2 linked regions of the Homo sapiens genome follow. Each later gene encodes a partner of the first gene's protein in a complex. Each region holds a gene or a part of one and is shown on either strand. Other genes may lie near its edges. A codon is read from its position in the direction of its gene.

Evidence for each region. Proteins that work in one complex are often made in the same cells at the same time.
Region 2: the proteins of CAPN2 (region 1) and CAPNS1 are in contact, whole or in part, in a crystal structure (PDB 1KFU), measured with the Homo sapiens proteins. Residues at the interface, in NP_001739.3 of Homo sapiens: Ala2, Gly3, Ile4, Ala5, Lys7, Leu8, Ala9, Arg12, Glu13, Glu16, Phe60, Arg366, Arg416, Arg417, Arg418, Arg420, Asp494, Ile516, Phe551, Glu575, Lys578, Val581, Asp582, Asp585, Gly588, Ser589, Gly590, Gln641 (codon at 295), Leu642 (codon at 298), Gln644 (codon at 304); in NP_001003962.1 of Homo sapiens: Thr85, His86, Ser88, Asp111, Asp112, Met113, Glu114, Ser116, Thr118, Asp142, Arg145, Ser146, Ala149, Val150, Met151, Asp152, Ser153, Asp154, Thr155, Thr156, Gly157, Gly160, Phe161, Glu163, Asn206, His208, Leu209, Met212, Ile213, Arg215.

The regions. Positions count from the first base shown.
Region 1 is NC_000001.11:223,771,532-223,776,534, forward strand, and holds the end of CAPN2 (calpain-2 catalytic subunit), read left to right. Parts: intron 1-277; coding exon 278-394; intron 395-649; coding exon 650-708; intron 709-1,179; exon of another isoform or gene 1,180-1,555; intron 1,556-2,736; exon of another isoform or gene 2,737-3,302; coding exon 3,303-3,326; 3' UTR 3,327-4,487; downstream 4,488-5,003. UniProt on the Homo sapiens protein: Calcium-regulated non-lysosomal thiol-protease which catalyzes limited proteolysis of substrates involved in cytoskeletal remodeling and signal transduction. Proteolytically cleaves MYOC at 'Arg-226'.
Region 2 is NC_000019.10:36,135,438-36,143,074, forward strand, and holds the start of CAPNS1 (calpain small subunit 1), read left to right. Parts: upstream 1-4,628; 5' UTR 4,629-4,720; exon of another isoform or gene 4,721-4,828; intron 4,829-5,552; exon of another isoform or gene 5,553-5,559; 5' UTR 5,560-5,574; coding exon 5,575-5,783; exon of another isoform or gene 5,784-6,127; intron 6,128-6,188; exon of another isoform or gene 6,189-6,241; coding exon of another isoform or gene 6,242-6,246; intron 6,247-6,862; coding exon 6,863-6,896; intron 6,897-7,214; coding exon 7,215-7,304; intron 7,305-7,471; coding exon 7,472-7,529; intron 7,530-7,626; coding exon 7,627-7,637. UniProt on the Homo sapiens protein: Regulatory subunit of the calcium-regulated non-lysosomal thiol-protease which catalyzes limited proteolysis of substrates involved in cytoskeletal remodeling and signal transduction. Essential for embryonic development.

The DNA of each region.
Region 1 (5,003 bases):
CATGAAGCAACTGTGACCATGAGAACAGAAACAGGCAAGAAAACACTTATGTGTCAGCAAAGGACACAGGCAGGGTGAAGGTGGACAGTTCAAAAACAAAAGAAACAGCAGAAGGTACTGGCTTTGCAAAATCAAACCAGTCTCACAGAAGAGCAGCCAAGGGACAAAAGCAATTATACCTCATTTAAATCACCACATTAGTTTCATAGCCTGTGAGCGCAGCTAAATGGAACAATCTAATGCTTAGCAATGAGTTTGTTTGTTCATGTAACTTCAGGTTTCAAGATGCCCTGTCAACTCCACCAAGTCATCGTTGCTCGGTTTGCAGATGACCAGCTCATCATCGATTTTGATAATTTTGTTCGGTGTTTGGTTCGGCTGGAAACGCTATTCAGTAAGTGGATATTTGGGGAATGACTCATTTCAGTTCTCTTGGTATTAAAGTGGCCTGCCTTTCACCTCGGTGAAATCATCTAAACTAGAGACATGTCTTCCAGGAGTTGAGAATGAAATTCCCTCTTTACTAATTTGAGGGTGAGGAAGAAAGCATGTATGGTGGTCAGTGAAGTCAGTTGCTGAACTGAAAAGAGGATAATGTGATCTGTTTCAGCTCACTCACTTGTGACACCCTCTTTTTCTCCCTCCACAGAGATATTTAAGCAGCTGGATCCCGAGAATACTGGAACAATAGAGCTCGACCTTATCTCTGTGAGTCAGCAGGCCCCGCCTTGCTTCTAAGGGGATGGGGGAGGCATGGGGCGGAAAGGGCTGTTACTTGAGTGATCTGCTTTTTCAAGTTTTGCTTTAAAGAGCTCTTGGTCTGTCGGGGCCAGGCCTGTAACCGGTTGTAAGATCCCACAATGCACTTTTACTTGCAGTTGTTTTCCAACCACCTATTCTCAAGTCCAAAATGCACGCCTGGCTCCCTCTTCTCATGAGCTTTGACTTGAGTGTAGCTCAAGGTTAAACTAAGGAGTGGCTGCAGGATCATGCTTAGAAAAATGAACTCCTGATTAGCATGCAAGGGAGAACATGTTTATATAAAGAAATCCTTCAGCTGAAATTCAAGTTGGGTTTTGGGAAGATCCATCATTCTTAGAGTGGATCTACTTAAAATACTTTAAGCAAATTAGTTTTCTCTACTCCCTCCCCGTTTAAGATAAAACCAATACTAGTAAATACGTTTGCCATTTATTATTGTTATTGCACTCATGTGTCTGGAACCCTAGCAATACACATCTCTGAAATGATCATCAATCTGAATTAAGTGGGTATGCTAATTTCACAAAAAGCAAAGCGTAAAATGTTCTCGTGTCATCCCAATGACAGGAAGTTCTCTCACTGAAAGAAAGAAGCCAGGTGGGGTATACTTCCATTATCACCTGGCTCCAGTCAGCATTTCCTCTATACTCAGGGAAGGCCACAGAGGGCCGGGCGAAGTGGCTGACACTGGGTGAGAATGGCAGTTGTCAGTCCTGTCCGTGTAACAGAGGAGTGAAGTGGTGAGGAGGGCAGGTCTAAGGCACTGGCAGCTCTTTTCCATGGATTTTGAACTCTGGAGGAAGGCAGCAACTAAATAACTGTCTCATTCTGCTATTATGCATTGTATTAGCAAAGTGAAAATATAGTCTATCTGGTTACAAATAACACTAACTTGCTTAAAACTTTACATATCCTAGGAAATATCTCTACCCCTAGATTGCAATGTAGAGTCAACCCCATCTCTAAAAAAATAAAAAATTAGGCTGGCCGCAGTGGTTCATGCCTGTAATCCCATCACTTTGGGAGGCCAAGGCAGGTGGATCACCTGAGGTCAGGAGCTCAAGACCAGCCTGGCCAACATGGTGAAACCGCGTCTCTACTGAAAATACAAAAATTAGGGCTGGGCGCGGTGGCTCACATCTATAATCCTAGCACTTTGGGAGGCCAAGGCGGGCGAATCACCTGAGGTTGGGAGTTCGAGACCAGCCTGAGTAACATGGAGAAACCCCATCTCTACTAAAAATACAAAATTAGCCAGGCGTGGTGACACATGCCTGTTAATCCCAGCTACTCGGGAGGCTGAAGCGAAAGGATTGCTTGAACCCGGGAGGCGGAGGTTGCGGCGAGCTGAGATTGCACCATTGTACTCCATCCAGCCTGGGCAACAAGAGCAAAACTGCATCTAAAAAAAAAATTAGCTGGGCGTGGTGGCAGGTGCCTGTAAATACGTTACTCTGGAGGCTGAGGCAGGAGAATCACATGAACCTAGGAGGTAGAGGTTGCAGTGAACTGAGATGGTGCCACTGCACTCCAGCCTAGGCAACAAGAGCAAAACCCTGTCTCAGAAAAAAATAAATAAAAAATAAAAAAATGAGCCAGGCATGGTGGTGCGTGCCTGTAGACCCAGCTACCCAGGAGGCTAAGGTGGGAGGAACACCTGAGCCCAGAAGTCAAGGCCGCAGTGAGCCATGATCTCCCCACTACATTCCATCTTGGGTGACAGAGCAAGGCCCTGTCTCAAAAAATTTAAAATGAAATAAATAGTAGAGTCAACACAACTGTGACACGAAACATGCCACATGTTAAGTTCTGGAAATCCTAGCCTGTCATTCTTGCTGGATATCCTATTCTACCCCAGCCACCCACCCCCACTCCAGGGTCCACCTGGCCTGCCTGCTCAGTCCACTCCCTCCGCATCTCCTCCGAGAAGCATCTTCTTACCCACTGGCTTTTCCTGCCACTCCTAAGCCTTACCTTTTGCAGGTTCCTGGAGATCCTCGCTTCTCGTAGTCTTTGCAAGGATGAGCCATGTTCAGAAGCTCTCCGTTCAGTCTGCAGGGATTTCAACCTTGGCTGCAGATTCCATCACATGGGGAGCTTTGCCAAAGTGCTGGTGTCCTGTCTGTATCCCAGACCAGTTGAATCAATCTGATTTAAAGTTTCCGTATCACTACAACTTAGAACCAATGCTGAACACCATTGGTTGCAGGGATATCCACATCCCAAACTAACTTCTGATGTGATACTCTGAGGCAGAGATGTGAAAATGCTAATTTCTGTTGTGTGAATTTCACTTTTCATGTGTGCAATCAACCCTGTAATATGATTCATGGCCACTTAATGCAAATCACACAGACTACTGACCTGTTAAAAGCTAGACTCTAGAAATCAGGTAAGAAAAATATGAGTTAGTGCACTGATATTGTAGCCCTCAATCAGCTTTTCCAGTACAAGTTTTTTGGAACAATCTACAGGTACTTAAATAGCCTTTAATTTTAAAAGTGGTCACTGAGCTGACTTTTTTTTTTCCTTCCTCACAGTGGCTCTGTTTCTCAGTACTTTGAAGTTATAACTAATCTGCCTGAAGACTTCTCATGATGGAAAATCAGCCAAGGACTAAGCTTCCATAGAAATACACTTTGTATCTGGACCTCAAAATTATGGGAACATTTACTTAAACGGATGATCATAGCTGAAAATAATGATACTGTCAATTTGAGATAGCAGAAGTTTCACACATCAAAGTAAAAGATTTGCATATCATTATACTAAATGCAAATGAGTCGCTTAACCCTTGACAAGGTCAAAGAAAGCTTTAAATCTGTAAATAGTATACACTTTTTACTTTTACACACTTTCCTGTTCATAGCAATATTAAATCAGGAAAAAAAAATGCAGGGAGGTATTTAACAGCTGAGCAAAAACATTGAGTCGCTCTCAAAGGACACGAGGCCCTTGGCAGGGAATATTTAAAGCAACTTCAAGTTTAAAATGCAGCTGTTGATTCTACCAAACAACAGTCCAAGATTACCATTTCCCATGAGCCAACTGGGAAACATGGTATATCATGAAGTAATCTTGTCAAGGCATCTGGAGAGTCCAGGAGAGAAGACTCACCTCTGTCGCTTGGGTTAAACAAGAGACAGGTTTTGTAGAATATTGATTGGTAATAGTAAATCGTTCTCCTTACAATCAAGTTCTTGACCCTATTCGGCCTTATACATCTGGTCTTACAAAGACCAAAGGGATCCTGCGCTTGATCAACTGAACCAGTATGCCAAAACCAGGCATCCAATTTGTAAACCAATTATGATAAAGGACAAAATAAGCTGTTTGCCACCTCAAAACTTTATGAACTTCACCACCACTAGTGTCTGTCCATGGAGTTAGAGGGGACATCACTTAGAAGTTCTTATAGAAAGGACACAAGTTTGTTTCCTGGCTTTACCTTGGGAAAATGCTAGCAACATTATAGAAATTTTGCCTTGTTGCCTTATCTTCTTCCAAATGTACTGTTAAATAAAAATAAAGGGTTACCCCATGCAATCACACCATGCCATGTTTTCCTTCCTGGAGGGCAGCCCCACAGGACGGTTTATGAGCACACAATTATAGCTTGTTTCTACTTTAACAAGGTATGCTGCCTCTGTAAATTCATGTATTCAAAGGAAAAGACACCTTGCCTATAATTAAAATGTGGAACTATAAAATTTTTTAAAATCCAATTCAGAAACTTTGATAATCTGACCATAACATAAGGGAAGCTCTAATTTCTACTGCTTGCTGATCTGCTGTTAGGCAGCACAGAGACGTATGTGCCTCTCAGGAAGTTCCCTGCTCGACCTTGGCCAGCTCCTCCTGGGGTAGGTACAAGCAAGGGAGCTGAGAAAACATGCAGATGAAGTCACTGGTCTGGTGCTTGTGGTTCTTGATGAATCATTTCCTCAAGATGACTTGAGATGATAGGCAAATGCCATCCTAATATTTCCTGAACAAGGTGAGACAATGGATTTCCCAAACTCGGCTCAAATGAGTTGAAGTTCTCTTGCTTGCTGAGTGGATTTTGAGGGCAAAGGGGAGGCTGGTGGCCATGAGAGTGCAGGAGTCCCAACCTCCTCGCATCGGTGATTTCTCTGTCCAGCTGCACAGGTGGCAGGAAAGATGTGGGAGATGTTTGGACTGACTCAAGATTGGAGGTGGGCAAGGGAAGGGTAGCTGAAGGATCAGGGGACAAGGGAATG
Region 2 (7,637 bases), on another chromosome or scaffold:
AAGAGTTTAGTTTCTGTAGGTGGAGCCAATAATATCTGCTGACAGGTTGGAGTGGGTGTGAAGGAGAGAGGTGAAGGACCACCCCGGAGTGTTTGGCCTCAGTCACTGGAAGGACAGAGCTGCCACTGACCTAGGTGGGGAAGGTAGTGAGGGAGCAGGTTCTGGAGGAAGGTCAGAAGCTCAGTTTAGGATATGTAAAGCTTAAAATGCCTCTAAGGGCCAGGTGCATTGGCTCACACCTGCAATCCCAGCACTTTGGGAGGCTGAGGCGGGTGGATCACGAGGTCAAGGGATTGGGACCATCCTGGCCAACATGGTGAAACCCCGTCTCTACTAAAAAATACAAAAATTAGCTGGGCATGGTTGCGCATGCCTGTAGTCCCAGCTACTCGGGAGGCTGAGGCAGGAGAACTGCTTGAACCTCAGAGGTGGAGGATGCAGTGAGCCGAGATCGCGCCACTGCACTCCAGCCTGGTGACAGAGCAAGACTCCGTCTCAAAAAAAGAAAAGAAAAAGAAAAAGGAAAAAAAAAGCCTCTGAGATCTTCCATCCTTTCCCATGGAAATGGTGAATATGATGCAGGATGTAGGAGCCTGGAGTTCGCAGGAGGTGTCTGGGCTGGAGATAGAAATTTGGGGGTTAGGGTTAGGGCCAGGTGCAGTGGCTCACGCCTGTAATCCTAGCACTTTGGGAGGCTGAGGTGGGAGGATCACTTGAGCTCAGAGTTCAAGACCAGCCTGGGCAACACAGTAAGACCTCATCTCTACAAATAATTAAAAAAGAAAAAAGATAAAGGAAATTTGGATGTTTGCCGGGCGTGGTAGCTTGTGCCTGTAGCAGTAGCTATTCAGGAGGTTGAGGCAGGAGGAGGATTCCTTGAGGCCGGGAGTTACAGGCTGCAGTGAGCTACATCACATCACTGCATTCCAGTCTGGGTGACAGAACCCCTGTCTCTAAGAACAACACAAAAAACTGGGCGTTGGCCGGGTGCTGTGGCTCATGCCTGTAATCCCAGCACTTTGGGAGGCCAAGGCGGGTGGATCACAAGGTCAGGAGATCGAGAACATCCTGGTTAACACGGTGAAACCCCGTCTCTACTAAAAATACAAAAAATTAGCCAGCGTGGTGGCAGGTGCCTGTAGTCCCAGCTACTCTGGAGGCTGAGGCAGGAGAATGGCGTGAACCCGGGAGGCGGAGCTTGCAGCGAGCAGAGATCGCGCCACTGCACTCCAGCCTGGGCGACAGAGTGAGACTCCATCTCGAAAGCAAAACAAAACAAAAAACTGGGCGTTGATAGCCTAGAGACAGGATTTAAGCTGTGCATGTAGGGGAGGCACCCCATGGCATGAGTGGTACAGAGAGGAGGATAGAGACCTAACACCTGGGGCTGCCGGGAATAAGGGGTTGGGGGCCAGAACTAGATGACAATATGGTTACGATTGGCAGTGAGTGCCATGAGAAAGTACAAGTCATTTTGAAAGCATATAACTGGAAGCCTCACCTAGTCTCAGGTTGGGTGGAGACAGGGAGGTCTTTCTGGAAGAGATGACTCCTGAGGTGACACCTGCAGCCTGAGTAGCTACACAATCAGGCCAGAAAAAAAAAGGCAGCAGGGGAGTTCCTGGCCGAGGGCATGAGGGCTGGCAGCAAGTGAGCCTCGGGAGAGGGCAGAGAGCTGGAGCAGTCAGTCTGGCAGGGAGGGGTGTGGTGAGAAGGGAATCTGGATTAGTCATCACCAAAAGATCTGTGCCAAGCCCGGGTTCAGATCTGGTTCTGCCACCCTCCGTGACCCTGCCTTTCAGAATCTCCATTCTCTCTCCTGCCCTGCAGACAAGGCTTGTGTAGCAGTTACCTTGGCCTGGCCCCAGCAAGGCCTCAGGAAACATCAGCTGCAACTAGTTTTGTCTGTTGTGATGTTGTTATTTGACCTATTATATTAATTATATTATTAACGCATAAGGGTAGTGGTTAAGGATACAGGCTAGGGAGAGTGACTGCTTGGGTTTAACCTCAGAGTCGGTTTACTTATCTGTAAAATGGGGATAATAAATAGCATCTATGTCACAGGGCTGTTAGGAGAACAAGGGAACTGATGGACGTCAAGCACTTGGAGGAGTGGTTGATGGTTACTTGTTTTTGTATCTTTTTTTTTTTTTTGAGACAGTTTCGCTCTTGTTGCCCAAGCTAGAGTGCAATGGCACGATCTCGAGTCACTGCAACCTCTGCCTCCCGGGTTCAAGCGATTCTCCTGCCTCAGCCTCCCGAGTAGCTGGGATTACAGGCACACGCCACCACGCCTGGCTGATTTTTTGTATTTTTAGTAGAAACAGGATTTCACCATGTTAGTCAGGGTGGTCCCAAACTCCTGACCTCAGTGATCTGCCCACCTCGGCCTCCCAAAGTGCTGGGATTACAGGCGTGAGCCACCACACCTGGCCTGTTTTTGTACTATTTAAGGAAGACTAAGAGTCTACCAGCTGAGGAATACAGCTGGCCTCGAGGCTGAGGGAACAGCATGAGCACAGACACAGAGCTAATGGGGGCATTTACAAAGCATTTATCACCAATTTATTTATTTATTTATTGGAGACGGAGTTTCACTCTTGTTGCCCAGGCTGGAGTGCAATGGTGCAATCTTGGCTCACTGAAACCTCTGCCTACTGGGTTCAAGCGATTCTCCTGTCTCAGCCTCCCGAGTAGCTGGGATTACAGGTATGCACCACCACATCCGGCTAATTTTGTATTTTTTAGTAGAGACAGGGTTTCTCCATGTTAGTCAGACTGGTCTCGAACTCCCGACCTCAGGTGATCTGCCCGCCTCAGCATCCCAAAGTCCTGGGGTTATTGGCATGAGCCACTGTGCCCAGTATTTATTTGAGACAGAGTCTCGCTCTGTCACCCAGATTGTAGTGCAGTGGCATGATCTCGGCTCACTGCAACCCCCGCCTCCTGGGCTCTGGTGATCCCCCCACCTCAGTCTCTAGAGTAGCTGGGACTAGGCGCATGCCACCACATTCAGCTAATTTCTGTATTATTTGTAGAGACAAGGTCTCACTATATTGCCCAGGCTGGAGTCAAACTCCTGGGCTCAAGAGATCCTCCTGCCTCAGCCTCCCAAAATGCAGGGAATACAGGCATGAACCACTTCACCCAGCCACCACTTAAGTTTTTTTTTTAATAATCAGTATTGCTGCAGATATCATTTAATTTTGATAGGGGGCCTAGTGGTATGGAGCAACCCATGTTCCCATTTTACAGATGAGAAAATCGCTGCTCAGGAATATCAAGCCACTCTTTTGGGGTTGTGCAGTTATTACAGGGCACAGCCAGGATTCAACTCAAGCCTAGCCAGCCTGCAGGGTAGGGGATAAGAGCCAGCCAGCCTGCCTGGGGGCCAGATTTAGCTCCCCCCGATGAGTCCTGAAAAAGTACTGGACTCCCGTGGCTCATGCCTGTAATCCTAGCACTTTGGCAGGCCGAGGCAGGTGGATCACCTAAGATCAGGAGTTTGAGACCAGCCTGGCCAACATGGTGAAACCCCGTCTCTACTAAAAATACAAAAATTAGCTGGGTGTGGTGGTGCATGCCTGTAATCCCAGCTACTCGGGAGGCTGAGGCAGGAGAATCGCTTGAACCTGGGAGGCAGAGACTGCAGTGAGCTGAGATGGCGCCACTGCACCCCAGCCTGGGCAACAGAGCAAGACGCTGTCTCAAAACAAAAAAAAAAAAAAAGAAAAGAAAAGAAAAGAAACCAGGCTATGTAAAAATATTATTGTAAAAAATTAAATTAAATCAAAAAAAGGCCGGTAGCCCATACCTGTAATCCCAGTACCTCACAGTACTTTGGGAGGCTGAGGCAGGAGGACGGCTTGAGGCCCGGAGTTCAAGAGCAGCCTGGGCAACATAGCGAGACCTCCGTCTCTATTATGTAAAAACAATAATATTTTTTAAGTAAATAAAGAAACCAGGCCGTGGCCAAAGGAATCTTCCTGTGTCTGGGGCCTTCTTTAGAGGCTAGCATACTGAGGACACTCTTTGGGCCAGTCCAGGAAGGAATGATTCTGGTGGCCCCTGACTGGGGCGGGGGCGTGGTAAGGTTCGCCTGGGAGGCGGCGCAGGCGCTGCCTGCGGTTTGACTGCCATCCGGGCTGCTGCAGGCACTGGGAAAGGCAATCCAGCCTCAATCCTCGCCACAGACACGGGCGACTGTCCCCCAGCGTGTGAGTCAAACCATACTCCAGGCCTCCAGGAGGTGTTTGTCGCGACAACACCTGCAGAGGGCCCGTGCGGAGTCCCTTAGTGAGCGGACCGAAAACCGCCACCCTGGAAGGATATTGGCATGCCCTAGGGTGAAAATTCACACTACGACACTCGGGGGGTGGGTCCCCTCCGAGTTCTCGTCCGCGGGTGCCTCCACCCAGACCTGAGGGGTGTCGGGAAGACCCCCGCCTACCGAGTCAGGGCGGGATTAAGACCTCCGGCGCTGGAAACGCGTAGGGCGGGGCCCAGACCTGGATCCAGCTAGCCGGGCGGTGTGGGGTGCGCATGCGCAATGTCCGCTTCGGCTCTAGGACCGCGCGGGCGACAGCAGGGCCGCGGTGCAGTGTCCGACCCGAGAGTTGCGGCCTGAGTCACCGGCCCCGCCCTCCGGAGCCGGACGCTGCGGGAGGCCCGGGAGCGGCAGTGGAACCGACTCCCAGAACTCCGGACGTGTGCGGCGGTAAGCGCCCGGCCCGTACCCCCTCCGCACCCCGCAACTCCGACTTTGGCGGCCCCCAGACCCGGCGAAACCGTGAAGTCTCGGCCTCAGGAGCCCCCCAGATCCATGGTCTCAGATTCGAACCCTCAGACCTGTTCGATCTCCTTTTATGCCGTCCCGGGGACCCTTCTCCACCCTCTGTCTCATGATCCAAAATACAGGCCCATAGGTTTCAGAGATACCCTGTGAATTCTTCCTTGGGGTGTCCTGAACCGCGATCGTAGATCTGTGCCCCCAGTTCCAGCGGGGAACCCCATTGTCCGGGAACCCAGAGCTCACAGCCACGATCTTAGACCCGAGCCCACAGAGCCAGAGGTGACACTGGAATCCTGCCGCTGGGAATACCTAAATTCTCAAGCCCACATTTGGGATTTCCTAAACCCCGCCCTGGGGCCCTTTAGGCCGTGGATGTTTGCTCCGCGCCCATGACCTGCCAAGGACCTCTACATTCAGGCTGGGCTCTGGATCTCACATTCTAGCGCCCAGACATGTCGGGAACGCCTTACGCCAACTTGGGGTCCCCACCAAGAGAACCCCCACCAGATCTGCACCCTCCCCTTCACGCGTGCACCCAGTCCAGGCTCCCTCAAGCCCCACGGGTGCCTTTTAGACCTGAGGAGGTTGCAAACCTGATCCCCCATACCTGCCCCACCCATCCGCGGACAACCCGCCCTCGCAAACTCAGACCCCCACCCGGAGGCTTCAGATTCCTCCCAGGTCCAGCTGCCGGAAATGCGTGTTTGAAGGGAGGGTGTGGGCTCAGGGGCGAAGCACCCACTGGTCCCCTTTTTTCCCCCCAGCAGTGAGTCGCAGCCATGTTCCTGGTTAACTCGTTCTTGAAGGGCGGCGGCGGCGGCGGCGGGGGAGGCGGGGGCCTGGGTGGGGGCCTGGGAAATGTGCTTGGAGGCCTGATCAGCGGGGCCGGGGGCGGCGGCGGCGGCGGCGGCGGCGGCGGCGGTGGTGGAGGCGGCGGTGGCGGTGGAACGGCCATGCGCATCCTAGGCGGAGTCATCAGCGCCATCAGGTAAGGCGGAGACTATCAGAGGGGCGGGGCCTGGGAATGGGAGGAGCCTCAGTGAGGCGTGGTCTGGGAGGGGCGTGGTCTAAAAATAGAATAGGATTAACCTGGAGGCTAACCTGGGTACATGAATTAGGCCGGGGAGGCCTGGTTTGAGAGTTCTGCTGTAAGGGGGTGGACCCCAGTGAGGCGGATATCAGTCATTGGGGGCGGTGCTTGATATGGGAGTAGTCTGATTGTGTGGGACCAGGACAATGTGGTCCTGAGGGGACTGATGTGGAGTTTTGGCGGGTGGGGCTTATGGGTCTGGGCTCAGCCTGCATTGGCTAACCTGGAGATGAACGTTAAAGGTGCGGAGCCAATGCGTCTGAGTGACATTTTACGGAAGGGGCTTGACTTATGAGTGTGGTCAGAGGTTTTAGGTGGGTTAATGAGGAGGTGAGCCCAGGAGGAAGCAAGACCTAATGGGGTAGGGTAAATGGCCCAGAATGGGCTGGGCTTGCTGGGAACTGGCTGGATTAATGGAGAAAAATGCCCTGGTAGGGATAGGGCAGGTTGGCTTAATTAGCCACGGCCACTTAGCAGTGATCCCTTGAAGGGGCGGGGACCAATGGCTGGGGTAGGATGTTGGGAAGACGGGCATTTAGGAAGCGGGCCATGGAGTAGGGTCTTGGGCAGATGGCACCTGAGGAGGATAAGGCCTTGGGAAGCTGGGGCAGAGCCTCTATGAAGTGAGCCCTCCAAGGGGCGGGGTCTTTTGATTCTACGTGGGATTTTTTAGGTTTAGGGTGGCCAAGATGACTGAAATCTGCCACTGGGTAGGTGTGCCTGGCAGGAGGGGAGCCTCCCAGGGGACCGGTCTCTGGGTTTCCTCGAGGGTGGGGTTGGCCTGAGGAAGGGAGAAGAGGGGCACGACCAGGGCAGTGTGGATTGGGACAGATGAGGACAAGAACAAATGAAAGGCACAGCAACCAAGTAAGGAAGATAACGGCTGGGGTCTGGAGCGTTGGGGCTGATGGTTCTGTAGTGCTGCCCGTTGGAGGCCCCGCCCCTGGCACTAACCCCTCCCCCTTATCTCTTCGCAGCGAGGCGGCTGCGCAGTACAACCCGGAGCCCCCGGTAAGCCCCCTCTGCAACCAGACCCCCTTCTCCTGCCAAGGCCTCTTCGAGGTCCCATCCCTGTTCCTGTAGAGAAGCCCCACCTTCCTCCCCTTCTTGTGAAATTCCTCTGCCAGTTCCTCCCATGCCGTGTCTGCAGCTTCGCCATGGGTCTTAGCCATGCCCCACATACGTGCACCCCATTCACTACCACCCCTCATTCTTTTCCTCATCAAGCTGCCCAGCCCACTCTGACTTCCCCACCCAGGGTACCTGGGTTTGGGGAGCCGTCCTGGCCGGGTTCCCCTCCCCCTGCTCTGAGCTCTCCTCCCTTTGCAGCCCCCACGCACACATTACTCCAACATTGAGGCCAACGAGAGTGAGGAGGTCCGGCAGTTCCGGAGACTCTTTGCCCAGCTGGCTGGAGATGTAAGTAACCTGGGGTCCCTGGCCCCGTCCTAACCGTTCCATCCCTTCCCTTGTGGCTGCCCTTGCACACACACCCTTGACCATGACAATCCCAGTGTTCCCATTCTCCATGACATTCTCAGACCCCTTTCAGTCACCCCTGACCTGCCCCTAACTTCCGCCCGCAGGACATGGAGGTCAGCGCCACAGAACTCATGAACATTCTCAATAAGGTTGTGACACGACGTAAGTGACCGGGGTTAAGGAATAGGGTAGATTCAGAGGCAGAGGGGTCAGAGAGGATTTGACCTCTGGCCTCTGACTTTCAACCTGTTACCCACAGACCCTGATCTG